Homo sapiens: one gene and its partners. The protein of the gene in region 2 interacts with the protein of the main gene of each other region in a pairwise test. Each region holds a gene or a part of one and is shown on either strand. Other genes may lie near its edges. The genes, in order: NSG1, CISD2, SMIM1 and SLC13A3.

Evidence for each region.
Region 1: the proteins of CISD2 (region 2) and NSG1 interact in binary tests that used the Homo sapiens proteins (3 or more experiments, as listed by UniProt).
Region 3: the proteins of CISD2 (region 2) and SMIM1 interact in binary tests that used the Homo sapiens proteins (3 or more experiments, as listed by UniProt).
Region 4: the proteins of CISD2 (region 2) and SLC13A3 interact in binary tests that used the Homo sapiens proteins (3 or more experiments, as listed by UniProt).

The regions. Positions count from the first base shown.
Region 1 is NC_000004.12:4,390,082-4,397,104, forward strand, and holds part of NSG1 (neuronal vesicle trafficking-associated protein 1), read left to right. Parts: intron 1-1,393; coding exon 1,394-1,510; intron 1,511-7,023.
Region 2 is NC_000004.12:102,871,990-102,879,012, reverse strand, and holds part of CISD2 (CDGSH iron-sulfur domain-containing protein 2), read right to left. Parts: intron 1-7,023. UniProt on the Homo sapiens protein: Regulator of autophagy that contributes to antagonize BECN1-mediated cellular autophagy at the endoplasmic reticulum.
Region 3 is NC_000001.11:3,768,066-3,775,771, reverse strand, and holds the start of SMIM1 (small integral membrane protein 1), read right to left. Parts: upstream 3,024-7,706; 5' UTR 2,984-3,023; exon of another isoform or gene 2,710-2,983; 5' UTR 2,591-2,709; intron 474-2,590; 5' UTR 399-473; coding exon 289-398; intron 1-288. Other genes in the region: CCDC27 (coiled-coil domain-containing protein 27), read right to left, coding at 4,249-4,371, 5,885-5,989. UniProt on the Homo sapiens protein: Regulator of red blood cell formation.
Region 4 is NC_000020.11:46,641,449-46,648,471, reverse strand, and holds part of SLC13A3 (Na(+)/dicarboxylate cotransporter 3), read left to right. Parts: intron 1-7,023. UniProt on the Homo sapiens protein: High-affinity sodium-dicarboxylate cotransporter that accepts a range of substrates with 4-6 carbon atoms, such as the citric acid cycle intermediates succinate and alpha-ketoglutarate (2-oxoglutarate), as well as other compounds including N-acetyl-L-aspartate.

The DNA of each region.
Region 1 (7,023 bases), about 98 Mb from region 2:
TTTCCTCATCCTCAGCAGTAGCCTTATTTCCCATTCATTGGCCAGTCTAGGCCTGCGTGCTCAAGGTCACATGGCTAGTTGGGTCCAGTCGGGGTTTGAGGATGGCAGGGTGACACCCAACCACTGCCTCAAGCAATGAGTGCCTCACAGGGGTGGGTGCCCAGGCCAACCCATGCCAGGCACCCCTCCCTCTCCACCGCAGGAGCACTGGGTGGAAAAGGAGTTGGGGTCAGAGGCCAAGAGTGTGGTTACAAGGTTTATGGCTCTTGGGATCATTTTTCAGTGACCCTGGAATGGGCTCCGCTGTTCTTTCTCCCCAAGGCTGGCTTTGGGGGTCGTAGCACCGGATGAGAGGCCCTCTGGCTGCCCGCCTGGGGCTGACCATCCCCAGTTGCTGGGGTCTCTTTGTTCTGTCCTGGTCCCCACCATCGTGGAGAGCAGGTGACGGACTGCCCAATGAAGGGGCCTCGTCCCTCGGGGGAGAAAGAGCTTGGAGGTGGCTGGCTGTCTCTAGTGCAACAGCCTCTCCTGGAACCTGGCTTGGGGAGCGGGGTTTGGGGATTAGAGACCTATAACACCTTGACCCTGCTCTTGAACACCTCCCAGTCCAGTGGGACAGAGAAGTAAACAGTCCCTGGCAACGGGTGTGGTGAGTGATGAAGGCAGCGCCGCTGAGGCCAGGGCTGTGAGTGTCCAGGGCTGGGAGGCTTCTTGGGTCCATCTGAAGCTGCTGGGGTGTAGGGCAGATGCAAGGGCTGGTTTCCAGGTTGGACAAACATCGTTCTGCTTCACAGTAGGGGGTGGAGGGGAATGAGAGCAGGGAGACCCTTTGGGGGCTGTGGCAGGGGCAGGGGGAGAGGAGGATGTGGGGGTGGAGACAAAGAGGTTGATCCTGGATCTGTTTCCAGACAAGCTGGTGGCCAGCTTCTCCAGCCAGTCCTGGAGGGCTGTGGACAGTACCCTCAGACCTCCTCTTCTTGTGCCCATGGTGGCACAGCAAGGCCAGTGAAAAGGCAGGTGCAGCCTCCCAGCTTCCTGGGCCAAGCCAGGCTTTGGCTCTGGTGGGTGGAAGGAGCACTGGGTTAGGAGTCAGCTGCCAGGCTGCATCCCCGCCCTGCCGCCTATAAACCGCATGACCTTGGCCAATGAGCTTAACTTCTGTGCCCCTCGGTTATAATATTTCCCTCCTGGGACTGCTATCAGGATTATGAATGGGTCATTTCTCTGAAAGTCCTGCCACAGAGGAGATTTCCAAAAAGTAGTGGCTGTTCTCGTTCTTGTGAATTTCTTCCTGGCAAATGGTGACTTTGAATATGGGAGTTCCCAGACCCACCCTCTTTGGGCAGATATGTCTGAATGCATCTGACTTTTGTTTCTCTGTTTCCTGGATAAGGTGGTCGTGAAAACTAAGACCGAGTATGAACCTGACCGCAAGAAAGGGAAAGCACGTCCTCCCCAAATTGCTGAGTTCACCGTCAGCATCACGGAGGGTGTCACCGAGAGGTTTAAGGTGAGTGGTCCTGTGCTGGGTGAGATGCTGCTTTTGCCCCCAGAAGGGGTCTGCTGAGCTGCATAGATGCCCTGCAGGGAGGGCCAGGGTTTGACGCCGTTTGTCTGGGCTCATCCCAGCTGTGCACACCCAGTAGCTTGTGACTGCCTGCCAAGATGTTGTCCTTGTGCTTTTTGTACATTTCTTTTTTCTTTTCCTCTTCCAAAATGATCACATATTACTTATTTTTATAACAGGGGAAACCCACCCACAAACTGTCTTTTAGGCAAAGATTATAAACATATGAAAAATCACTTACCAAACATTACAATATTTACTTAACAGTTCCAGGAAGGAAGCAGGCAATAACAAAAAGATAACGCACAGCACTGATCACATGCCAGAAAGGGGTCCCAGCCCTTTACCTAGTGAGCTCATCTGAGCAACCCTCCTGGCACACCAGTACTATCGGTATAACCCATTTTGCAGATGGAAAGGTTGAGGCACAGAGTGGTCACAGCTCTACACAGCAGAGCCAGGATCTGATCTGCAGGGGGTCTGGCTTTGGGCCTGTGTGTATCCTCCATCCTTCCCCCCATCCCAATGGGATGAAGGGGTGCTGCTGAGAGCGGGAGGGTTCCAGCCTGTCTCGGTGGGAGGAGCCTTCTTGCCAGCCTGGCTGCCTTCAGAGGCCACGTTGGTTGAAGAACAAGTTGGGATATTGATCAGGAAACTCATTCTTTGGGAAACATGAGAGAGAGAGAGTAAAGCGGTAGCCTCATCCAGATTCAAGGAGGTGAATTGAGAGACATCAGTGGGCCCCAGGCCTTGCAGAGTGGCCCTGTCTGGCTCTCTGGTCACCCTCCACTTGGCAGTGTGAGCAGTTTGCTTGTGCTGGGGGCACAGGGACTCCCACCCCCACCCGCTGCAGTTTCCAGAGCCCCTGTGGGTATGGCATCATATTGGATCTCTGTGACAACCTTGTGGATCACAGAAGGTGGGACTGGGAGCCATCCCTGGTTAACAGATGAAGCCAAAACCACAGAGTGACTGGGGAAGCCAGGGCGTAATCTGACTTTCAGTCCCTCCTTCTTCCCGTTGCCACACACTGCCTGTCAGGGCCTGCCTGGTCCAGCGGGTCCCATGAGTGTTGCTGTGGGGCAATTACTTGTGTCAGCTCAGCAAATCCTCCCAGCAGCCCTCTGCCTGCTCCCTACTAATAGTAGGTACTATTTGTATTACCAGTGTTACAGATGGGGAAGTCGAGGCACAGAGCAGTCTGTGTCTGTCCCTGCTGGTATGTAAGGATGTCGTGTGTGCCGAGAGGCTCTTTTGGTGGCTCCTGGCTCGGCCCATCGTACGTTTTTGAGGTTCTTGGCCAGGACCAAGACATACTGATCCGAGGTCAATACCTGTCTTCTGCGCTGGCCAGTGGGATTAGCGCGTGCCTTATCTGCTGCCACTCACCTGTCCTGCCCCATTTGCACCCTGGGTTTGGCTGCTGTCCCTGGTTGAGGCAGGAGTGGCCTTGATTTCAAGGTCATGGTGTCCTCTGTCCTGATGGCTAAATGCTGTGTGATGTCTGAGTGTGTCTGGGTTTCTCAGGCCCCACTTGCCCTTTGCTTTCCCAGCCCCGGCGTTTTAGGTCCCCACAGAGCAGGGCGCAGTGCGGCACTTGAACAGCTATTCCTTCATCTGTTGAGTGTCTATGATGTGCCAGCCTCTGTCCCCGACCTCTGGTGTTCTTCATTTGCACTTTTCCCACATGACCACCTGAAGCAGGTCCCCAGGTCTCTTGCCTAAGGAATGGGTGATGCATATTTGCCACCAGGGCCCTTGGCAGCCTTGGCTGGGACTCTGTGGTTACCTGGCCCCTGTTGCCCAGAACCTGAAGGCTCAGAAGACCATGGGTGATTATGCTCATCCCAATAGACTGGCTGCTGGCAGCAGAAGCCCTGCCTCATCTCCCTGCCTCTACCTCCTGTGGCTGTCTGAGAAGGCGATGTATGCAGTAGGTGCTCAGTACATGACTATACTGGACTAAGTCTGCTGGGTGTGTTCCTCTGCTTAGTTTTCTTTTCCTCCTTTATGATTCACAACTGCCCTGAAGGGGTGGCATCGGCCCCTTTACACGTAAGGCTGTTGAGTCCCAGGTGGTCCCAGGGTGGCTGGGGTGCTCCCTCTGTGACTCTCTAGCTTCAAAGCCAAGGCCTTCCCAACATACCTTGCACCACATCCCTCCCCACTCCCATGGGACGCCTGCTGCTTCCCAGACCCCATCCCTTCCATCTCCTCCCAGGGCAGGTGCAGATCACACCTCTGCCAGGAAGCCTCCTGGGTCACTCTCATTTGCAACAGACCTCACCGCCCTGTTTCCAGTGCCTTTTGTAGCCAGGCTGCAATGGCATCTAACAGTGACGGAGTGATCCATGAGCTAGACTCTGCTTCACACTCCTAATGCTCATATTGTCTCATTTAATCTTCATAAACACCTCAGGAGGTAGGCGCCCTTATAGCTCCATTTTACATAGAGGGGAAACTGAGGCAGAGAGCCTTGGCAGCCTGCTCTTGGCTGTGGCACCAGAGGTCCTTGGTTTCTTGGAGAAGTGGGTTTGTGTGGGAGCACTCACCCCAGGCGCCATCGCTGTTGAGCCATTCCACTTCTTCAAATCCTTTTCCTTTGTTGATTCAAAACCCTTGCTCTGCTGCCTTGAGCCACACAGAATGTGCGGCGCCCTCCTTCCCCATCCCCAAGGCCTTCAGAGACATGGCAGGCACAGGTACCCCGGAAGCCTCCCCAGTGTACAGCTTCTTTTTCTCTTGTGTCTTTCTGAGTCCTGGTTTCCACGCTCCCTTCCCCCAGGTGCTCTCTTTTGAGGGTCTGGGTTGGGCTGTCTTCTCTTTGGGTGTGAAACCTGTGACTGGGTGTCCTGGCAAGGTCCATTGGTGTGGCCCTTCCAAGCATAGGCCCCCTCGACCTGAACTGGTGACCCGAGGAGGGGAACAAGGCCATGGAGACCCCCTGAGCCAAGAATGTCAGCCAAGAATGAATGCTTAGGGACTCTTTGTGCAGACGGAACTTACTCATCAGCCGCTCTATGCCAGCCATGGTAAGAGCTCCTTGATATCATCTCTCTGGCGCTTCTTGCACACACAGTAACAGCTTGATAAGTAAATGGATGACTAATTGTGCTGCTGGCCTCCCATGAATGGGGTACTTGGCGAGATTTCCTGGGTCTGCCCGTGGGTCCTTGCTTGTTGAGTAAGTTCAGCTGGCAGCTCATTGGATTGAAGCCTCTCTCGGGGCCATGCTTACGCGTAAGCCTCTAACAGGTGATGCCTGTCAGCTCTCACCAAGTCAGACAGGTGACCTGCTCAAGACCACACAGTCAGTGAGTGGCAGAGGCAGAGTAGGAGCTGGGCAGCCGGCTCTAGAAGCCTGTTGCTGTGGCATACTTCAGCCCACTAGCTTGCCCAGGAAGCCTGCAGGCTGGACTTTCGCAGCTGAACAACTTGCATTCTAAGGGCATCTCTTCTCTGTGCCTGCTCCGAGCCCCTTCTCAACTGGGAAGGAGATTTACCTAGCTCCCTGCCCACTTGCTGTGGGGTGGATGTGAGAGGCAGCCTCCAAAGTGCTGCTTCCCCAGGTGTTTCTGGAGCCACCTGAGTCAGCATCACCTGAAGTTTGATTTTAACTTGGACCCTGAACCGCAGGGAGATGCGTTTTGACAAATGCTTTCCAGGTGATCCTAATGTGTCCTGAGTTTTCGAGCCTTTCCGATGGGGGTGCATTCCAGCACAGAAGCTGGGAAGGATGAGGAGGGCTGGTGCTTTTTGGGAATGCTAAGGGTGCCCACCTTTCTGGAATGTTCTCCCAGCTTTTTATTACCCAGTTAGATTTCTGGCATCCCTGAACGCGTGCACACAATGAGGCGTGTGTGAAGCTGCAGCTGGTTGAGGGCTGGGCGGGTCTCTCTTTCTGAAACGGGAGCATATGGGGAGCAGGCTATGCTGGAGACACGGGCATGATGGAGGGTCCGCAATAGAGATTCACCCTCCCTGGCTTGTGTACCCCCCTGCCAGGGCCCAGTCGAAGCTGTGGTTGGGACAGAGCATCTTCCTCGTCCCACTAGTGACTGGACAGCTTCTGTGCAGCTCCCTGGCCCAGCCATCATCTTAGCTCTTTCATCTCCATGCATGAATTGCAGGAATGGAATCTCGCCTTTCCGATCTTGAAGTGACAGGTAAATCGTTTGTCCCCTCCTCTCTCCAATTTGTGTAGCTCAGAAGCACCTCATCTTTATAGGCGTTTGGATGGCATCCTTGAAACGGAGTGTCTTTTTGCATGCAGCTTTCTGATTGTCACTTGGGGATTAATCTCTTGGCTGTGAGGTTACTAGGCTGGTTGCTAGGTAACTGCTGACTGGGAGAAGGTTCTGAGAGACTCCGCCACACGGGATGGCAGGAGGACTCCCCCAGCGGCGGCCAGCTGCTTGGGCTTCCAAAGAGGTTCTTGTCAAGGAAAGCAGTCGCTTAATTAACTGGAGGCATATTTACAGTGAGAATAAACACTGGCTGAGATGTTTCTCAACCAAACCTAAACATTTTTGAAATTGCACTTCCCCACTGATGCCTGCAGAGTGGCGGGTCGGGGCTGCTGGGGCCGCTGCTTGCAGTTCTCCTTCCGGTCTGGAGACTGTCATTAGGGGCCGTCATCAGACAGGTGACAGGAAGGCTCCCTCAGGGCCCGCTCCAGCCCTTCGTGCTTCGTGATTCCGGTGATGACCGGTTGCTGACGCTGGAGAGGTCTCCACACCCTGTTTGCCTGTGATGTGAGGTCAGGTTTGGGTGGTCCAGCCTTGACCCTCACCGGGTACCATGTCACCCTGGGGCCTTGAGAGATCTGAAGGTCGGCTTTGCACGGGAACACCTTTCACCGCCAGCACAGGGCTGGGGAGTGACTTGGCAGGAGAGCCCTCGTTAGTCTGCGTGGTCCCCCTGGTTGGCAGTCCAGACTCTGGTGGGGACGTCCCTCTGCATCCTGTCGCAGAGGACTCTGTGGGTGGTTTGTGTCTTTTCTTCACATCCCTAATGACCTTGAGCTTCCTGCGTGCCCATCTGTTTCCACATTCTCCAGTAAGCCCCTGGTGTGTTCCCTAATGACCTTGAGCTTCCTGCGTGCGCATCTGTTTCCACATTCTCCAGTAAGCCCCTGGTGTGTTTCAAGATGCATTTCTTAAATATTTATGAAGAGTGATGCCGTTTCCTTGGCATTCAGCAGTGGGGGTGGGGGTTCTTCCCGTGGGGGTGGTATTGGAGACCCTGAAGGTGTGTGTGGACGCCCCCTCACCTTTAGCTATGCGAGCATCTTGTAGGATCCTGGGGCTGTGGTTGCAGAGCCCACCTTCCCCAGGCTAGCTGTAGTGTGGGGGCTTCGGCTGAATCAGATACCACGTGGGTTCAGTCATCTGTGTGTGTGTGTGTGTGTGTATGTATTCACTTTTGTGTGGGTTACCTAAAATATTTAGTGCTGT
Region 2 (7,023 bases):
CCCTTCCACCATAATTGTAAGTTTCCTGAGGCCTCCCTAGTCATGCGTAACTGTGAGTCAATTAAACTTATTTCTTTTATAAATTACCCAGTTTGGGGTAGTATTTTTATTTTATGTTTTTATTTCTTTTATAGCAGTGTGAAAGCTAATACAGTAAATTGCTACAACAGAGAGTTGGGTACTGCTATAAAGATACCTGAAAATGTGGAAGCAATTTTGGAACTGGGTAACTGGCAGAGGTTGGAACACTTTGGAGGGCTCAGAAGACAGTAAGATGTGGGAAAGTCTGGAACTTCCTAGAGACTTATTGAATGGTTTTGACCAAAATGCTGACAGTGATATGGACAATAACATCCAGGCTGACGTGGTCTCAGCTGGAGATGAGGAACTTACTGGGAAATGGAGCAAAGGTCACTCTTGCTATGCTTTAGCAAACAGACTGGTGGCATTTTGCCCCTGCCCAAGAGACTGATGAAACTTGAGAGAGAGATGACCTGAAATCGGAACTTAGGTTTAAAAGGGAAGCAGAGCATAAAAGTTTGGAAAATTTGCAGTCTGATGATGCAACAGAAAAGAAAAACCCAGCTGGGTGCTGGTGGCCCATGCCTGTAATCCTAGCACTTTGGGAGGCTGAGGCGGGCAGATCATGAGGTCAAGACATCGAGACCGTCCTGGCCAACATGGTGAAACCCCGTCTCTACTAAAAATACAAAATTAGCTGGGCATGGTGGTGCACACCTGTAGTTCTACTCGGGAGGCTGAGGCAGGAGAATCACTTGAACCCAGGAGGCGGAGGTTGCAGCAAGCTGAGATTGTGTCACTGCACTCCAGCTTGGGTGACAGTGTGAGACTCTGTCCCCCTCCTTCCCCCCGCCCCCCCAAAAAAAAGAAAAACCCATTTTCTGGGGAGAAATTCAAGCTGGCTGCAGAAATTTGCATAAGTAACAAGGAGCCAAATATTAATTGCCAAGACAATGGGGAAAATGTCTCCAGGACATGTCAGAGGTCTTCACAGCAGGCCCTTCCATCACAGGCCCAGAGGCCTAGAAGGAAAAAATGGTTTTGTGGGCCAGGCCCAGGGCTTTGCTGCTTTGTGCAGTATTGGGACTTGATGCCCTGTGTCCCAGCCATGGCTAAAAGGGGCCAACATACAGCTTGAGCCACTGCTTCAGAGGGAGCAAGCCACAAGCCTTGGTGGCTTCCATGTGGTGTTGGGCCTGTGGGTGCATAGAAGTCTAGAATTGAGGTTTGGGAACTTCACCCTAGATTTCAAAGGATGTATGGAAACACCTGGATGTCCAGGCAGAAGTCTACTGCAGGGGTGGAGCCTTCATGGAGAACCTCTGCTAGGGCAGTGCAAAGGGGAAATGTGGGGTTGGAGCCCTCACACAGAGTCCCCACTGTGTCACTGCCTGGCAGAGCCATGAGAAGGCGGCTACCTGCTCCAGACCCCAGAATGGTATATCTAACAACAGCTTGCACCATGCATCTGGAAAAGCCGCAGGCACTCGATGCCAGCCCTTGAAGGAGCTGCCCAAGGCCATGGGAGCCTACCCCTGGCATCAGTGTTCTCCAGATGTGACATGGGGTCAAGGAGAACATTTTGGAGCTTTATGATTTAATGACTGCCCCACTGGATTTCAGACTTGCATGGGCCCTGTGGCCCTTCTGTTTTGGCCAATTTTGCCCATTTGGAATAGGTGTATTTACCCAGTGCCTGTACTGCCATTGTATCTTAAAAGGAACTAACTTATGTTTTATTTTACTGGCTCATAGGTGGAAGGGACTTGCCTTGTTTCAGATGAGACTCTGTACTGTGGACTTTTGAGTTAATGATGAAATGAATTAAGACTCTGGAGGACTGTTGGGAAGGCATGATTGATTTTGAAATGCAAAATGAATGTGAAATTTGGGAGGAGCCAGGGGTGGAATAATATGGCTTGGCTCTGTGTCCCCACCCAAATCTCACCTCTTATAATCCCCATAATTTCCACATGTTGAGGGAGGAAACTGGTGGGAGGTGATTGGATCATGGGAGTGGTTTTCCCCATGCTGTTCGCATGAGATCTGGTTTTATAAGGGGCTCTTGCCCTTTCACTCCTCACTCTTCTCTCTCCAGCCTCCTTGTGAAGAAGGTGTCTGCGCTCCCTTCTACCATGACCGTAAGTTTCCTAAGGCCTACCTAGCCATGCAGAACTGTGAGTCAACTAAACCTCTTTCCTTTATAAATTACCCATTCTTGGGTATTATCTTTTTTTTTTTTCCAGATGGAGTCTTACTCTGTCACCACGCTGGAGTGCAGTGGCATGATCTTGGCTCACTGCAATCTCCACCTCAGGGGTTCAAGTGATTCTCCTGCCTCAGCCTCCTGAGTAGCTGGGATTACAGGTGTGCATCACCAAACCCAGCTAATTTTTTTGTATTTTTAGTACAGATGGGGTTTCACCATGTTGACCAGGATGGTCTCGATCTCCTGACCTCATGATCTGCCCACCTTGGCCTCTCAAAGTACTGGGATTACAGGCATGAGCCACAGCACCTGGCCTCTTGAGTAGTTACCTTTATAGCAGTGTGAAAACAGACTAATACACCTACTATGTAGAGATACTGTGCTAAATGCAAATACAGTAGCTGTCTTATTTATATCTATGTAACCAGTGCTTAGTAATTTGCACATAACAGGACTTCAGTAAACAACTAATTCAGTTTATCTGTGGTATAAATCCAGATTTTCATATACTTGGAACCAGGTTTCTTTTGTCTGTAAAGCAGGAATAACAACTGTAAGCTCATTTGTTCAACAATATTTACTTAGTACCTACCACACTCCACAAACTGCACTATGTGGGGATACAGGCTAATAGATAAGGTCCCTTCTCTCATAGGGTATATATTTCAGAGGACAGAGACTATAAACAAGTGAACAAATAAACAAGATGATCACAGACTATAGTAACTGTTATAAAGGAAATAAAGGATGACATAAGAGAAAAACTAACCTGGGGCAAAGCAGTAGGGTGGCTGCAATTTTAGGTAAGGGGTCAGGGAAGGTTTCTGAAAAAAGAACCTTTAAGCAGAGACCTAACGAATGAGAAGCCAGGAGCTCAAGCACTTGAGCGCAGAATTTTCAAGGCACAAAGAAAAGTAAAGAGTCTTCTAACTTCATAGGATTGCTGGGAGAAACGAATGAAGTAGGAACCCACTCAGTAAAAACTACAGAACACAATTCAAACTATTAATGCATTCTGCCTTAAAACTATATAGTTAGGTAAATATTTGTCTCCTCCCCAACTAAACAAAAAATCCCTAACTCCCTACCCTTTAACAGAGACTTACATAAACCAAGACCTCAGTAAGTTTTAGCCTAATTGAGTTTGTACTCCAATAAACTGGCATTTGAGATAATTCCTACAAGGTCTGTACTTACTTGTCTTTGTTCATGGCTTATGAATAATGACAGTGTAAGTTAAAATACAGGAAGACTACTTAAAATATTTAAGAAAAAAACTTTCAGCACCTTCTAAAATTGTAATACCTCACTCACATGTATCAGGTGGTGGGACAGGTACTGAAGATACAAAAATTATAAAACACACTCCCTGTTAGAAAGGAGCTTGCCATTTAGTATGGAAGACAGACCTATAAAAGACGATCATAATACTGTGTACTATCAGCAATAATACAGAAGCAACGCAGAGGTACAAGTTATTCACTTTTTACTGGCATGAGCAAAAACTGTACAGGTTTTGATACTTAAATAGGTTTCTGAAAGATGAAGAGTACAGAAGTTCATGGGAATATGGGAGGAGGAGCTTCATTCCATGCAGAGGAAGCTGCATAGGCAAAGGTACGGAGATATGACATGCATTAAGTGTCTGGGAAACTAAGCACCATAGTATTGTTAGAATTTAATGAAAGGGAGCTGTAGAACTGAGCAGGTGCCGTATGATGACAAACTCTGATATTCAACAGGTAAGTAAGAATCTAACCTGTGCATAATAGGAAACCACTGAAATATTTGAATATTAGCCTAACTAGGAAATTGTTCACCTATGAAGTCACTCTGGTATCAGATGGAAGATGGATTAGAGGGCCACAGGAATAGCAGAGAGGGCTAGTGGAAGAAGACAAGGCAAGACAACCTGTTGAAAATCCATGGAAATGGTCTGGAAGAAAATAGTTTGAGATAAAACTAAGGTAGTGGCCATTAAAGCAGAGAAGAGAGAACAAATGTGAGCAGTAGTCTCTACTAGGATTCCCTAAACTGCAGAGAACAATGTGTTCGTGCTTGCATTTTCGTTTTCTTTTTTAGCTTAAAACAACAGAAACGTATTCACTCACAGTTCTAGTGGCGAGAAGTCCAAAATCAAGGTGTCAGCATGGTTGATTCTTTCTGGAGGATCTGAGGGAGAAGCTGTGGTGTCCCTTAGCTTGTAGGTCTATCACCCCAATCTCTGCCTCCATCTTCACATGGTGTTCTCCCTTTGTGTGTGCCCAAATTTCCTTTTTAAAATATTTTAATATAATTTCGACTTTTATTTTAGGTTGAGGAGGTAAATGTGCAGGTTTGTCATATGGGTATATTGTGTGATGCTGAGGTTTGGGATATGGCTGATCCTCCCACCTAGGTAGTGAGGATAGTACCCAATAGTCTTCAACCCTTGACCTCCTGCCTCCCTCCCCTTTAGCAGTTCCCAGTGTCTACTGTTGCCATCTTCATGTCCATGAATACACAATGTTTAGCTCCCAGTTGTAAGAATATGTGTTATTTGGTTTTCTGTTTCTGTGTTAATCTCCTTAGGATAATGGTCTCCAGCTGCATCCATATTGCTGCAAAGGATAAGATTTTGTTCATTTTTCTGTTTTGCCAATTTTTTTTTTTTTTTGAAGACAGAGTCTTACTCTGTTGCCCAGGCTGGAGTGCAGTGGCACGATCTCAGCTTACTGTGACCTCTGCCTCCTGGGTTCAAGCGATTCTCCTGCCTTGGCCTCCTGAGTAGCTGAGAATACAAGTGTGCACTACCACACCCGGCTAATTTTTGCATTTTTAGTAGAGACGGGGTTTCACCATGTTGGCCAGGCTAGTTTCGTACTCCCAACCTCAAGTGATCTGCCTGCCTCAGCCTTCCAAAGCGGTGGGATTAAAGGCATGAGCCACACCGTACCTGGCCTGTTTTGCCAATTTTTAAATGTGAGTTGTTCATCTTCTTATTGAGCTCAATACTGAGCAAGGACCTAATATACATATTGACTTTTACATCCCTTTTTTTTTTTTTTTTTTTTTGAGACGGTTTCGCTCTGCTGCCTAGGCTGGAATGTAGTGCCACGACTCAAGCAATTCTCTTGCCTCAGCCTTCCACGTATCCCACTATTAAGATAAATAACAGGACCAAAAAGGAAGAATGAAAGAACCAGCACCATCAGAGAAACAAAATCTAGGCCACTCACAGTGCCTCACACCTATAATTTCAGCACTTTGGGAGGCTGAGGTGAGTGGATAGCTTAAGCTCAGGAGCTCAAGACCAGCCTGGGCAACATGGCAAAACCCCGTCTCTAAAATAAGATACAAAAAAATGAGCCAGGTGTGGTAGCGTGCACCTGTAGTACCAGCTACTCAAGAGGTTGAGGTGGGAGGATGGCTTGAGCTTGTGAAGTCAAGGCTGCAATGAGTGGGTAGAGATCATGCCACCTGCACTCCAGCCTGGGCAACAGAGTGAAACCCTTTCTCACAAAAGAAAACCAAAATCTAGTCAGAAAAGAAAATTTCAAAGCAACTTGAATAGCTGATTTGGTCAGGCTTTGTGTCCCCACTGAAATCTCATCTTGAATTATAATCCCCATAATCTCGTGCCAAGGGAAAGACCAGGTGGAGGTAATTGGATTATGGGTGTGGTATCCCCCATGCTGTTCTGGTGATAGTGAGTGAGTTCTCATGATATCTGATGGTTTTATAAGGGGCTCTTCCTCCTTTGCTCGGCACTACTTCCTGCCATGATGTGAAGAAGGTGCCTTGTTTCCCCTTCGCCTTCCGCCATGATTGTACGTTTCCTAAGGCCTCCCCAGCCATGCTGAACTGTGAGTGGATTAAACCTCTTTCCTTTATAAATTACCCAGTCTTGCGTAGTTCTTTATAGCAGTATGAAAACGGAATAATACGGTAGCTACCAATTTTAGCATAAATTTTCTGAAAGTTTAGACATTGTCAAAATGAAGTATCTTCTTTGGGAAACAAAATTAGGTTTAACCTTTTATTATATATAGTGACACAGGCTAGCTATGACACCTATTCCTTATGACATATAAATACTATTATTAAAACATTTTTTAATAATAGCTAAAAATGACATAAAATGACATAAAAATGACATAGACAAACTCCGATCTTAATGAGGAATTACATTCCACAGAACTAGAACAGAATTTTTCCATTTCAAATTTTCAAACATCTACATATAATATAGCCATATCATCTTATGATACCATAAAAATAATACTGGCAGCTTGGTTGCTAGTTATTTTATAACATATTTTCTCATTTATCATATGTAGCTAAACACAGAAATTATTTCTATTTCTTAACTGTAGAAAAGATAAAATATTTTCAATGCATGAGTTTACTATTACCACTTAAAACCTAAGGTAGGGCTGGGCGCAGTGGCTCACACCTGTAATCCCAGCACTTTGGGCGGCCGAGGCAGACGGATTACCTGAGGTCAGGAGTTCAAGACCAGACTGGCCAACATGGTGAAACTCCGTCTCTACTAAAAATACAAAAAATTAGCCAGGCATGGTGGCACATGCCTGTAGTCCCGGCTACTTAGGAGGCTGAGGCATAAGCATCGCTTGAACCCAGGAGGCAGAGGTTGCAGTGAGCCGACACTGCACTCCAGTGTGGGCAAAAGAGACTCCCTCTCAAAAAACAAAACAAAACAAAAACCTAAGTTAAACATAAATTAGATAATCACAGTAATTTATCTTGAACGCCTCACTCTTGAAAATGTGACATAAACAAAGATAGTTAAG
Region 3 (7,706 bases), on a different chromosome or scaffold from region 2:
TGAGCCCCAGGCCAGGGCCGCATGAGGGGCCCCCTAAGTGGACTGTGGCCGTTGGTCTGGGTCAGGGGGAGGGGCCTGGGCGCTCTGCTGGAGTCAAGAGGAAGCTCTCCCCGCCCACAGCCAACCAGAGGGAAGGCCAAAGGCTGCGGTTTGCTGAGCTGCTGGACCGTGGGCTCCCAGCCAGGATGGGGTGGAGGGTGATGGGGCCGGTAGCAGGGGTTAGGGCAGGCGTCTCTGGAGGGAGACACCAGCCTGCTATGGCTGGCAGGCTGCCCTCAGGCCCCTCACCTGCGGCAGCGTGAGGCCTCTTCTGTGCTGGACACAGCCCCTAGGCTGACTCCGTCCCTGCTGCCGTCCTCCCACCTACTATAGTGGACGTGGCTCTCCTGGGGCTGCATGCTGTGGGGCTGCAGCGGGAGGGGCGGGGCCTTCTCGGTGGGGAGATCAAGACAGGTGGCCAGGCTGTGGCTTCACTGTAAAACAAGCGGATGGAGGGCGGCAGTCAAGACCCCCTCTGAGGCTGCTGTTAGGAGAGGGGCACTAAGGGTCGGGGGCTGACTCCCTCACCGGGTCTGTCGCCTGACTTAACAGGTGACCTAGACACAAAGTGGTAGAGTCATTTGCCCAGGGTCAGGCCGGGAGGATGGGACCAAGCGAGAATTCCATCTCAGGCCAAGCCCTGACCTCAGGCATGTGGGAGGCCAGTGTTTCCTTCCAGCACACTCCAGGAGCCTCCCTTCCCCGGTGCTTTTATCAGGGAGCCTGCACAGCCTGCCACCCTCAAGAGACGAGGACATTGTGGCCCAATCTAGGCTGCAGCCCCTGATAACTGTCCCCCTCCTTAACCCTGCCCGATAAGGCGCCTTCTGGCCTCTGGGGAGGCTGGCCAGGGGAGGGGGGGGTGGGGCAGGGCAGCAGGTCCGGGGCAGCGGCTGGTACAGCTAGACCGGTCCCTGTCTGGGGAGGATGCGTGGCTGGCCCCAGGCAGTGGCAGCAGCTGTGTCCTCAGCCTGTGTGGGTTGCAGCCCCTCCCCCACCCACACCTCTAGGAGGGCTGGGGCTTGGGGGGCATGATGCACTGAGCACGGGGCCGGGGTGGATTCAAGGCCTTGGGGAGGCCCTACAGAGACAGGAGGGTCGTAGGGCTGGGTGGCTGCCCAGAGCAGGAGGGGCCCGGCCCCAAGGCCAGCTCCCTGCTGGGCTCCAACTCCTGCAGACCTGGGACTCATCTTTGCATCTCGGCACTCAGCTCGGTGCCTGGCAGCCCAAGTGCCCAGAGGGGCGAGGAGACCACGGGGACTGAGCAGGAACTCCAAGCACTAGCACAGCTGCCCGGCCGGCCTGAGCCAGCCCGGACTCTAAGCACCTCCTTTACCCTCTGGCCTCTGTTTCGACCTCCTATTTACCTAAGGGGGTGTGGGGGTGGAGGAGTTGGAGGGGGCACGAGAAGTTGACAACCCACCCAGGCTGTGGGACTGGGGTCAGCTCTCTGGTCTGCTGGGCCCCCAGTGTCCCCTCTCAGCATCTGGCCCCCAGGAGTGGGGTCCTCGGGCAGGCAATGGCAGGCCCCTCACTTCTAGGAGCTGAGGCTTTGCTGGGCCCCCTCCAGCGGGGAAGGCTGACCTTCCTCCCAGGTCATCGGCACAGAGGCCTAAAGGCACAGCAGCCACTCCCCTGCAAGAAGCCAGCTCAGAAACTCAGGCCCCAGGCAGTTCTGAGACTCCCGGCACTTCCATGTCTGCCTTCCCCCAAAGCCCAGAGAGGCAGAAGGAGCTGTCTCAAAGCCATAAAGTGTGCCTTCGGTGGGAGCCCTGGCTCAGTGCAGCCTGGCACTCAGGCCCGGAGAGGCCCAGCCTCTACTGGAGTATGGGTGCTGTTTTCCCGGAGCATGTGGAGCGGTCAGCTGCCTACCCGAGGTTCACGCCCTCTTGCCTGGTGTGCAGAATCCCATTCTGGTCCCAGCAGCAATGTGCCAGCCCCAGGTAACAGCCATGACCCGGGTAAGACAAGCTTAATACCACCACCCCTGCTTTCCCAAGTCACCCAGCTGGGGTCCAGGAGCCAGGGTGCAGCAGGGGATGGGAGAGTTTGCTTCTGTGAAAGCAGCAGCAGCCACCTCCTTCTTCCAGACTCGACGTGATGGCTGGAGCTGCTGGAGCTGCAGCAGCCGCCTTGCAACCCGACATCCACGCAGCATTAGTCTCGGGAGTGCTGAGGCTCCAAGTCCACAGCAGCAGCCCACCATGGGCCTCCCGGTGGGAGGGGTCAAGCCCAGTGTGTTCAACTCTGGGATCATGGGTTCCTGTCTTGCTGACGTAGAACACGTTGTTCCCAAGTCACCCCGGTGCACAGCCACCAGAGCCGGCCCTTGAGGCTGGCCTCCCTCACTTGCTCAGTAAACGTCTCTCCACACTCATGTGATGGTCACAGGTGTGGCGGCAGGAACCCATCAGGGACTCCCCTCCAGGCCCTGGGAGGCTCCCGGATCCTGGCACCTCCTGGGGGCTTGTGAGTGCAGGAAGGCCCTAGGTACACAGGCGCCCCTCCATAGACCTCTTCACCCCACAGCGCCTCAGGGCCCCACACTTACCCGGAGAACCTTGCCTGAGGGCTGGGGCCTCTGGGCCAGGTTGCGGTCAGGGCCTGGCCAGCGGCCCGCACCTCCCAGCGGGGCAGGTCGTGGGCTGAGGTGCGGCAGACGCCTCGAGCCTAAAAAAATAAAGGTGACCGGAGAAGCCGATCTTGCTAAGGGCCGGGAAGGGAAAGTGGCTGGTGTCGGGGGTCCCCAGCAGCCACAAGGAGCCGGGCAAGGAGCCGGGCGGGCAGTTCCGGCCCTGGCCCCGCACCGCGGGTTAGGCCGGTGGGGGTCAGTCCAGGGCACGCCCCCACCCCCGCCAGTTCTCAGCCAGCGAGGCCGCGCACAGTCGCACCTGCCCACTGCGGCCGCACCGGGAAGCCGCAGCCCGGACCCCGCGCGCCTCACCTGTGTCCCCGCGTCTCTGGGCTCCGCAGGGGCCGGGCCTGGGCAGGGGGCGAGGGCGGGGGCGGGGCCACGCGGGGAAGGGCTGGAGCCAGCAGCGGGGAGGTGTCTGGTCCGGAAGGTGGCGGGGCTAGAGTGGTGGGCGGGGCCATGCGGGGAAGGTCTGGGGCCAGTAGCGGGGAGGCGCCTGGTCCAGAAGGGGCCGGGGGCGGGGCGAGAGGGGGCGGGGCGAGAGGGGGGCGGGGCCATGCGGGGAAGGGCTAGGGCCGCAGCGGGGAGGCGCCTGGTCCAGAAGGGGCTGGGGGCGGGGCGAGTGGGGCCGGGAGACGCCTCGTCCGGAAGGGGCCGGGGCTCTAGGCCGCCCAGCCCCGGGGCCAGGAGGTGCAGGGGGGCCGGGCAGGGTCTGCAGAGGGCTGCACTTTCTGCCCCCAGACGGCTCGCCCTTGGGGCCTCCAGGGTCCCCGACCTCCTTCACCCCTGCTGGAGCCCCTCCGACGCCACGAGCCTCCCAGCCCCGCGGGGACCCGGCTGCAGCGCCGACGAGACTGCGGGAGGCTCTGGGCGCGTCTGGGCCTGAATGCTGGGTTCGGGGACCCGGCCGCGGGGACCGTCCTCCTCCGGGGCTTGAGGGGCGTGGCGCCCGCACGTGGCCCACGCTCGGTGCTCGCGGCGGGAAGGGAAGCAGGTGTGGGTGGGGAGCAGAGAAGGGTAATGGGGAGAGTCCCTTCCGAAGGTGTTCAGGCGCCCAGAGCCTCAGAGGCGCCGGGGAAGCGTCGGGGACCACAGACACCGTTCCCGTGCGTAAAGCTTTCCTTCCAGGAGCGGGGGGATGGGAACAGAGCCCCCCACCCTCACCATCTTCCAGAGGGGTCCTCCAGCAAGAGAGTGCCCCAGCCAGGAGAGCCCCCAGGGCAGAAGGTCACAGACCCCTTCTGCTCAGGCGTGAGGTCTGTGCTGAGTGCTGGGCGGACACCCCGGCTCAGGCCTCTGGCAGCCTGGTGCCGCAAGGGGACCTGTTAGGAGCTAGGGGCACAGGCTGGTGTGCTGACTCCCTGTGAGTGAGCTTTGGAATGGGGAGTGTCCTTGTAGCTCAAGGTCGCAGAGGAGAGTAGGCCCCCGCGTGGATCCCAGAGAAGAAAAAGGTGGGACAGTGCCAACACCGGGGTTTAATTCTGAGTCTGAGAGCAGGACGCATGGTGGGGGCGGGTGGTTCTGGAGCTGGGCCCCGGCCTCTGCTGGGCTGACCGTATTTGGGGGCCTGGCTGGGCCTACTTGGAGGTCCCCTTCTTGGATTTGCTGGTCAGGAAGGCCTCTGACTGTTGCAGGGGGGGCACTTTGACGCCTTTCTGCTTCAGCTGATTATAGTAGTCGCTTCTCTCTGAGATAATTCTCTACACAAGAAACACAGCCGTCGAGGTGGCCTTCCCAGTTCCTCACCTTGGCCTTGAGGCCGGTCTGCACAGTCCGTGCCAGCTGCCCGGGACGCCACCCTCTCCTCCTCCTCCAGAGAGGCTTGCTGCAGCAGGGGTGTGCTGGTGAATACTTACAACCGGCTCTCCAGGGGGAGAAAAAACAAACAACCCTCGGCTTTGTGGCGTTGCCAGTTTCTGTGGTGGGAATATTCCCACAGTGGCTGATTTTCAGCCACGGAAGTGAAGTCACAGAATGCGGAGCCGGGGGCAGGTGCACACCACCAGCCCGCAGAAGCCTGCACTAAGCCCCCTCTTCAGCCCTCTTAGAGTTGTGAGGAGCCCCAGACTCCTAGAGATCTTTGAGGTCGTCACATCTGTCCCTCAAGTCCCTTCTGTCCTGTACAGAGGGAATGTTGTCCCCACCTCTCTTCCATTCTCCTCTCTGGGCCGTTGCTGGTTCATGTCAGGCTATGGCAAGCAAGCAAAGGTGCTCTTCCCTGGCTACTGTGCGGTGGGAATAACTCCCTCCATCCTCTGTCTTCCCTCTTCTCTTCCTCTTTCTCTCCCCTTCCTCCTCCCCTCCCCCAGACAACAGTACCAAGGCCGCAGAGACCTCTCTCCACATTACAGCTCTGCAGGAGAGGCACTGTCCAGGGCCCCCCACTCTGCAGAGGAAGGGAACCAGGCCCCAGGAACGTGGGTGCTGGAAGGTCAGGGGCACACACTGGGGTTCAAGGGCAGCCCCAGAGGGTGAAGTGTGGGTCTTGGGAACAAAAGCAGCTCCTGGTGAGAGGTGACCCCTTCGTAGTACACAGCCCCACACAGAGCCATAGCCGGTGCCCGGCTCCCAGAGCTCTGAGTCTTACGACACCTTGCAGGTGAGCATGCGCTGTCCATCACAGAGGGAGGCATCTATGGCTCAGAAAAGTGAGTGTGTGGCCCCCAGCTGGTGGGTGGTGACCCCCTCATGCCCAGTGACCCCAAGGCCTGAATTCTCCTACACCCCTCTACTTCTCCGAGGCCCTTGCTTGGGGACCCCTGGTCAGGAAGGAGCCCAGGAGGCTGTGGCCGGGGTGGGAGGGGTCTGCACCAGGGCCCTGGATCAGTGGGTGGTGATACCAGCGGAGGGGACCAAGCTGGACAAAGCCGGGGCTGGGCTCCTGCTGTGGGAGAATCTTCGTGCCCTGAGCGGCTTGTCCCCTCTCCACAGCGCTCAGGATGGGTTGTGGCAGTTACTGCTGGTCTCTGATGCCCGTCCCCCGTTTTGCTGAGAGTAGCTAAGACTCCCGTGCCATGCCCCCACCTGCCTTAGGATGATTTGATCCCCTCTGCCTGAGCTGAGAGAAAGGAGGGTCCTGGGGTCCAAGTGAATAGGTGACACAGGTAGGATGAGAACAGAGTCCCTGGAATCTAGGCCCCCCACAACCCCCTACCACAGCTCTGGCCTGGGGGTCTGGGGCCCGGATAGAGGCAGCTGAGCTTAGGGGTATACCTGCAGGGCTTCCAGGATGTCATTGTCAGAGATCTCGTTGGCCAAGGACTTGGTCCCGGAGATGCTAAAGGTGGCCTGGATGATCTTATTCCTTAACCTCTCGAGCTGTGAGCAAAGGGACAACACTATCATTCGCCTTTACCCAAGAAGGCACCTGGCCAGTGGGCTGCACCCCCCACCACCTTATTTTTTATGTACCAGGAAGGAACAGCTCACCCTCACTTTTCATGGCTTTAGAAACTGGAAACAGGTGTCAGAGAAGTCAATGTGGATTGTCTGAGAGCTAGGAGGTGCCGGATCCAACCCCTGACCCTGTGCGGCCCAGCCCCAAAGCCCAAAGACTCTCCTACACCAGGTGGGCTTTTCTAATTGGAAAGTAAAACCTACACACACATATATATATATTTTTAAACCAACAAACCAAAATAGTACAGAAGCCGCACGTAACCCCTGGACCATCCTCCACTGCCCAGGGGAGCTGCAGTGAGCGGACTTCCTGGCCCTTGGGGACACTCTCACTTTAGGCATTTAACAGTGCGCTGCTGGTGCTTCCTCCTTTCCATGCTGACTAGGAGGTGTCTGTGCCATGGACAGCAGCGTTGAACCTGGCCCCCGCGCACAGACCCAGAAGGCGTTCTCGTCTTCTGCTGCCATGAAGATCCTTGTCTGCCTGTACACCCGCAGCCGCCTCCCCAGAGGTAGCTAATCGTGCCTCCCAGGAAGCTGCAGAGGAAACCCCTCCAATCTGCACCCCAGGAGCCTCAGACAGGAACCCCTTGAGTTATGCGGCACGCTCAGCACGAGTTCCTCGTCCAGAAACCCTGACGACGCAGAGGTGCCCCACAGGAGCTGGGCCCGAGAGGCTCAGCCTTGCCTCCGAGTGGAAGCATGTCCACACTGCCGCTCGGACAGGTTTAAGTGACAGCAGGAATGTCATGGGCCCCTGGCCTGTGTGAGGAGTGGAATCCTTTCCTTCTTTCCAGTATTTATTGAGCGCCCAACTTTGTACAAACACCGTGCCAGGTGCTGGAGGTCGTGAGGTCACAAGGGGCTGGGCCTCTGTACTGGGGGTCCCTCCCCAGGGTAGAGGTTGGCAGCTACCCGGGGTGTCCAGCCTCACTTCCCCACACCCGTGGGGCCTCACCATCAGGCTTGGCGCTAGTTCCTGCTCACCCGGACTTAGCTTCACAATATTTCTCAGCTCAGCTTTCCAGGCTCCACCAGGTCAGTGCAGGCTGGCGCACAAATGGACACACCTAGACCGCCTCTGGTCTAACGCTTTCACCAGGACTACGGCTGGATCCCAAACTGTTTTATCAAGGGATACCAGGGGTGGGTGCCTCAGTCTGACCCAGCCGGAAGGAGGTGGACTCAAGCAGGAAAGAGGACGCAGTTGAGTTGCAGTTGGCATTTCTGGTGGGAACCTGACTTCAAAAGCCTCCATACATGACCTTGACCTTTGCTTAATTTTGGATTCTAAATCAAGGTCAGGGCCAGGCACGGTAGCTCACACCTGTATTCCCAACACTTCGGGAGGCCAAGGCAGGCAGATTGCTGGAGCCCAGGAGTTCAAGACCAGCCTGGACAGCATAGTGAGACCGTCTCTACAAAAAGCTTTTAAAATTGGCCAGGTATGGTGGCACATGCCTGTGGTCCCAGCTACTCAGGAGGCTGAGGTGGGATGACGACAGCTTGAGCCTGGGAGGCCAAGGCTGCAGTGAGCTGTTATCACCCCACTGCACTCCAGACTGGATGACAGAGAAAGACCCTGTCTCAGAAAAAAAAAAAAAAAAAAAAAAGGTCAGCTCTTTATTGATTTCCT
Region 4 (7,023 bases), on a different chromosome or scaffold from region 2:
AGGCCTGGCTCTTTGGAGGACCTTCGCCTCCCTCAAAATCTCTGTTGGCATACCTGAAGCCTCCTCTCCCATATAACAATATTTATATGATTGTCATTATTAGATTCTCTGACATTAAGAACAGACGTGTTTCTCAATTTCATATACAATGCGAATAAGAAGTATCCTTAGAAAACATCATCATCTTTATTGATCTGGGACACACATTTAATCCATTTCCCATTTAGAAAAAAAAAAAGTGCAGCTCACTGCCAGTGCAGTATTCTCGGTGCAAAACGGGACATGGGTTAAAGCAAGCACAGTAGGTTTGTTATGCACATGGAGCTTCAAGACAATTCTGGTCATCTTCACCAGTCACTCCCTGTGAGAGCCTCCCCAAACAGAGGCTGGTGGACTAACTTCAAAACATGCTTGCTGGGCAATTCAAGACAGGCGTCCTCAGCGTCCACTCCAACATCAGATTGTCACTTCTCAGCCTCTTCCACATGGATATTCTGGCGCCATGAATGCAGGTTGTATTGTATACATGGATCACTAACAACTTGCGAAACTGCAGATATCACATCAGGAAAGAAGTTGGAGATGTTCAGTTATTTGTCATTTACCAGGCAGTGTGGAGTAGGAGACAACCCCTCTTTGGGGCCTGGGTTTCCAGCTTGATGACATCTGTCCACTGCTGCTTTGCTGTTCTAGGAGTCTGTGTGTTAAGAGGGTTGGTTTTCATGCACCTGTTCCTGGTGACTGGTGAGCTTGTCTTCGGGGAGGCTGGAGTCAATCTGCAGAGCAGAGCTGGAAGGAACAATTCTTACATTATGTCCTCTGGCTCAGAAATGCTGTCAGCAGGGATGAAAAGGAGTGGGATGAGCTCTGGAATGCATGGCTGCCGCTTCCAGCACCACTGGGGATCCTAGCTCTTGCTATGAAGAGTGCTGGGGGCTCAGGAAGTTGGGATGCTACCCCAGGGACTACATCAACGTTTTCCAAGAATGGCCATCCTGCGAGTTAGAGGTTTGGGGAGTGATCTTAGCTAGTGGGCACAGATGGGACTCTTATTAATAAAACAGGCTTACAAATAAGCTCCAGCCCCACTTGTTTGCAGAGAAGCCTTACCCCCTTTCCTGCCTTATGCCCCCTGAGAGCAAATTAAATGATACTGACCACCTGTCCAAGAGGAGTTCTTAACACTGGGGACTCACAGGTGACTCTAAAGATGCTCTGAGAAGGAAGAGTTTGGGGATGCTCTCGGCAAGGCTGCTACAGAGTGTTGTGCAAGCTGTGCACTGCACAAGGTGCTTGAGGAGGCAAGTAAGGCTGAACCAGCCTGCATTCCACATGCCAAGCTGTGCACCCTGGTGCACAGCTGGATCCACCTGAGGAAGGGCCTTTTATTCTAATTTGCACAAAGGTGTCACGGTGGCCAACAGCAGACTTACTCTGGGATAGAGATATTTGGGGGGGATGGTAGTACACCTGTAAGGTCAGAGGCCCCCTTTCTTGCATTTGCCTAATTTGTGGGCAGGTAGATGACCAGGAAGATGGTCCTTTCATTCCCAGTTTTGAGGCTTTGGAATCAGAACTGCATTCGCATTCCACATACTTGCTGGGCAAGTCATTTTCTATTTCTGGCCTTGGTTTCTTCATTTATAACACAGCCATAATATTATATTCTTTCCCAGTTATTTTCTGGCCACAGTGAGTTAATACATTGTGCCTGTACTATAAATTCTTAGTTTTTTATTTAATGCTGAAAATATGTTTTAGTTCTCCTATTTTGCAGATGATGAAACTGAGGCTCAGAGAAGTTAAATGTTGGAGAGAACATGGGCTTTAGAGTTGAGAAAACCTGGATTTGTGTCTGGCTCTGAAGAGGGGAGCCTGGGCTGGAAACCTTGAATTTCTGAGGCTGAGTCTCATTTGTGAAGTGAGGAGGACTCACACCCTCTCATTCTGTTACGAGAATTAGGGGAAGATACAGGAGGTGTCCAGAGTGGTGCTCAGCATATAGTGGGAGTTTATAATTAGAGCAATAGCCACAGATTTTCTCACATTTACAAAATGCTGTTTTACATGCATCTCAAATTTCAGCTCATTTACTCTTCACATCAGATGTAGGAAGTTCAAACAAAAATTATCCCCATTTTTAGAGATGAGGAAAGTGAGGCACAGAGAGGTTAAATTCCAAGGTCACACAGCTACTAAACACTACTTCGGTCACTCCTCCTCCTTCTCTCTTAGTCCTGGATTTTGGAAGTGAGAGCGGCCAGGAAGTGAGAGAGGCCCTTGAGTTTTCCCCAACAGAGGTTTTCCAGAAAAAAACTGCAAGTCCAGCTCTGCGGATTGAGCACCTTCTCTGGCCAGACACTGCCTGCTGATTTTACCTTCTATCATCTCATTTGAGCCTCAGGGAGCTCAGACAGGGAGTTTTCCCCCATGCACCCCAGAATGGAGTGAATCTGGTTTGGTTTCCATCATCCAAATACCACTCACATCATTTTTGCCAGAGTCCCTTACCACTCAATATTATTTACTTAATTACATTCCTGTTATTCTTTTTACATTAATGTCTTACTGCCCTCTCCTTTTAAAAAAACTTAAATGCAATGACTTTAAAAGGAGATTTTCTGTGGGTATCATGTATGGAAAACCAGGATCATCACTGATGATTAGGAGAAGAAAACTAGCAATTGATAGGTAAATATTTAACGCTGATTAATACTGGGTACATACTGCCTGGTTGAAGCTATGGGCCTGCGATCTGCCCTCTCTTTGTTGCAAGGGGAGGGATATCATCAAGTGAGGCATTAAAGACAAACTAGTACCAAACTGAGACTTTGTTTTGGAAATAATGAGAAGGAAAGAAGGATTAGAAGGGAGGTAACCTCATTGTTCCACCCAAAGTCTTCTGGAGTTGGCTTTTTATGCTTCAAGAAATACTGGACCCATAGCCTGGAAGCGTGTCTTGTCTGGGGATGCTGAGGTTGACTGATAGCCCCAGCTCCTCAATTTCCTCATCTGTACATGGATGGCCTTCTTGCCACCATGAAGCTTGGTGAGCTGTTAAGTAAAGGAAATCTCGGGCATGTGGCTGGCTGAATAGTGACCCACCAAAGGTGTCGGTGTCCTAATCCCCTGAACCAGTGAATGTTACTTTCTATGGAAAAAAGGGACTTTCCAGGTGTGATTAGGTAAAGGATCTTGAAACAGGGAGATTATTGTGCAGTATCCAGGTGGACCTGATGTAATCCACAGGCGGCTTTCTGAGAGGCAGGCAGGAGAAGTTGAAATCGGAAGGTAATAGGATGATGGAAGCAGAGGGAGAAAAAGCAATGTGATGTGGGGCTGTGAGCTGAGGAATGCAGGTGGCCTCCAGAAGCTGGAACAGGCAAGGCATGGATTCTCTCTCCTGGAGCTTCCAGGAGGAACCAGCCTGGCCAACACCTTGACTTTAGCCTAGTGAAAATGATTTCAGAATTCTGGCCTCCAAAACTCTAAAAGAATACATTTGTGTTTCTTAAGCCACTCCATTTGGGGTCATTTGTTACAGCAGCAAGAAAAGATGAATACATGGCAAAACCACCCCACCAGACTGGTTCTCCCAGGAGCGGCTGGGAAGTTTAGCCCCATGTCTCCCTCTGAATTTTGATGCATCAATTGTCCATAATTCCCAGATGGGTCCCATCATGTGGGCCCCATGTTCCTGGGATGCAAACCCTGGTGTTCAGGAGAGAGCCTGGCTTGGTCAAAAAGGTTCCAGGCTTTGGATTCATTTGGATATGAATTCATCTCTAGCCTCTGCCCTGATGAGCAGTGTGATGCAGGAAGAGTGTCTTCACCTCTCTGAACCCAGTTCCCCAGCTGAAAAATGGAAATGTCCACAGTCCTTTCTTCACAGGATTTTACAATGAATAAATAAGTTCATACATGCAAAATGTGTGTCTCAGAGGACATGTACATTTTATTTTATTTTTTTGGCAATTTAACCTTTACACATGCTTTTCTGGTTGGGATCTTTGAAATTGATTTGGAAAAAAAAATGGGAGATGCTGGTAGCATTTGGTGCAAAGGACTATGTTGAAATGGTCAGTCCCGTGCCTCAGTTTTCTCATCTGGAGATTGGGTCTAATCATCGTTCAACCTCATACTGCTGTGGGGAGGAAATGGGTTCATATGTTTGAGGCACTTACTGGAGTGCTGGCTTATAGTTAGCACTTAGTAACTGTCAGCTATTAATATTACAGTTGCCATCGTAAACTGGTGCTCATTCTAGTTTAACCCCCACAAAAAGGAAACTGAGGCCCAGAAAAGGAAGTGAATTTTCCAAAGGCTTCAGTGAGGGGCAGGGCGGAGATGAGCACTTCCATCCCCCTCTCCAGGGAGTACCCTGTCTTAGGCATTGGTCATCAATGTTTTTATTTTAATTAATTAATTATTTTTGAGACAGGGTCTTCCTCTGTTGCCCAGGCTGGTGTGCAGTGGCATGATCCCGGCTCACTACAACTTCTGCCTCCTGGGCTCAAGTGATCCTCTCACATCAGTCTCCCAAGTGGCTGGGACTACAAGCACACGTCACCACGCCTGGCTAATTTTTGTATTTTTTGTAGAGATGGAGTCATGCCACTCAACTGGTCTCAAACTCCTGGGCTCAAGCTATCCGCCCCTCTCAGCCTCCTAAAATTCTGGGATTACAGGCACGAGCAACTGTATCTGGCCTCATCAATGTTTTATGCTAAAGACATTTCATTTAATCTCTTGACAGCTAACTTCTAGATGACAGGTGAGGGGGGTCAGAGGTCAAGTTCACTTATTTCTATTCAGATCGTAGCTAGCTCTCAACAAAGGTTAAGGACAGCTCATGTTTACTGTATGTTTATTAGGAGTTCTGGTCCCCGTTTCCTTGCTGATCCATCTTCCAACCCCACTCCACCTCTCATGCCCTCTGCTCCCAGCGCTCTGGCTTTCTTACTGCTCCTTAAATATCCCAAGCTTGCTCTCATCCCAGGACCTTTGCACTTGCAGCCCCCTCGTTCTGAACCTCTGTTCTCCCAGATGTCCGCAAGTCTTGCTCCTTCCCTTCATTGATCTCCGTTCAGATCTTACCTCCGAAAAGGCCGTCCCTGCCCCTATCTTTAGACCCTATCTAAAATAGAAAATGAAAAATCCTTTACACTCCATTCTGCCTTATTTTTCTTCACGGTCTTTATCACTACCTGGCAACGTATTATGTTTTAATTATGTATCTGCTGGTGCATTATCTATATTAACCCCCTTCCCCCCTTCCCACCCATGGGGTATAAGCTCACAAGGGCAGGGATATTTTTTTTTTTGTCCTGCTTACCATTGTATCTTTGGTGCCAGCCCCGTGCCTGGCACATAGTAGGTGCTCATAAGTATGTCTCGAATAAGTGAAAGAAAGAATGCCAGTTGTGTGCTAAGTTCTTGGCATGCATTTTCTCATTAATCCTCACCATGACCCCAAGAAGGAGCTACTACGATTCTCTCCATTTGCCCAATGAAGAGCCCACGTGCAGACAGGAGGAGACCCCTGCCCACATTAGGCTGGCAGATGGCGGCAGATGGCGGCAGATGGTTCTCAGGCTGACTTCCAGACTCCTGCTGTCGCCTATCTCCCCTGGCCCTTTGCCTCCTGCAGAAAGTTGCTGACCCTGGACACTCCGGGAATAATCAGAGGCTAATTCGAGAGCCAGGTTGGCAATCCAGGGACAGGGACAGGCTGTGACTCACCGTAAAGCTCTGGGGTCAGGCTGACAAGCTGGGAAGGCTTCTTGTCTCTGGTTGGCTTTGCGCTTGGACTGGATGTGGTAAGATGAAGAGAGGAAGGAAGGGTGCTCCTGGGGAATGGGAAGCGCAAGAGGCCAGGAGCAGGAAGAGTCCTGAGCAGGGGGAGAGGGCAAGGAGTCATCTTCCCAACTCTAGATGCAGACTTCCAGTGCACAGCGACCCAGGAGGGCAGAAACTGGCAAAAGCAACCATAGACTGAGCACCTACTAAGCGCCAGGTGTTATGCTGGGTACTTCACATGCATTGCAGCCAATGCTTAGAACATCCAGACAAGGGAGGCCTATGAGGAGGCACCGAGGGTCAGCACAGTGCAGTGTTGTAGCCCAAGGTCCCCAGCTGGTGAGTAGAATTTAAAATGACACCCATGCTCACAGCTGTGGCCCCAGGGCCCTGTGTCATCCAGCTCCTGCCCACCTGTCCCCTTGTGTCTGTTTTAATGGTAATGGAATTTGTTTTATTTGGGTATGATAAACACACAGACACAGAAATCAGCATTATCAAAGAAGTTTTTATACTCAGATGGCCCTAGAAGCAGGAGGCATACCATGCCACACAGGGCCACACAGGGGAGCAGCAGGGTCTGTCGGGAGGCAGAGGGAATAAGAGGAAACGTGGGCATGAGCCTTTACTGTGGGCAATATGTTCGGGCAAGGCAGGGTGTGCAGGTTTAGGACTGGCTAGTTAGTTTGAATCATTTCAGTGGGTCTGGGGGCATAGGGGCTTCCCCTAGTTGTCTTGTACCTGGCTCTGGGGTGATTAGGGCAGGTGGATTCATGTGAGATCCCTCAAAAAGAGGTGGTAGGGAGTATGGGGTCTCGATTGGTTGTTTCACATATGAAGGAATGCTTGCAGGCTAGTAGTTTATTCTTTCTAGGAATTTGCTAGCCCTGGGAAGGGGCAGTCCCTCCAGGGTCTCAGAGCCTCAAATACAGAAATTAGAAAACCTGATTTTACAACTTCCCCTGCCCTTGTCTTTTCTCACTGTGCCCCAGCCTCATGTGCCTTCTTTTGGTTCTTCAAAGCTGCCAAGCTTGCTCCTGCCTCAGGCCCTTTGCACTTGCTTCCCTGGACCATTCTTGCCCCAGATCTTCCACAGCTGGGTGCTTCTGGTCATTTAGGCCTTGGCTCCAATGGTACCTCCTCCTAGAAGTCCTCCTGCTTCTCAAGCACACCTGCCCTCTTCATCCCACAAATCACTCTCTAAAACAGCCTTCTGTTTTATTC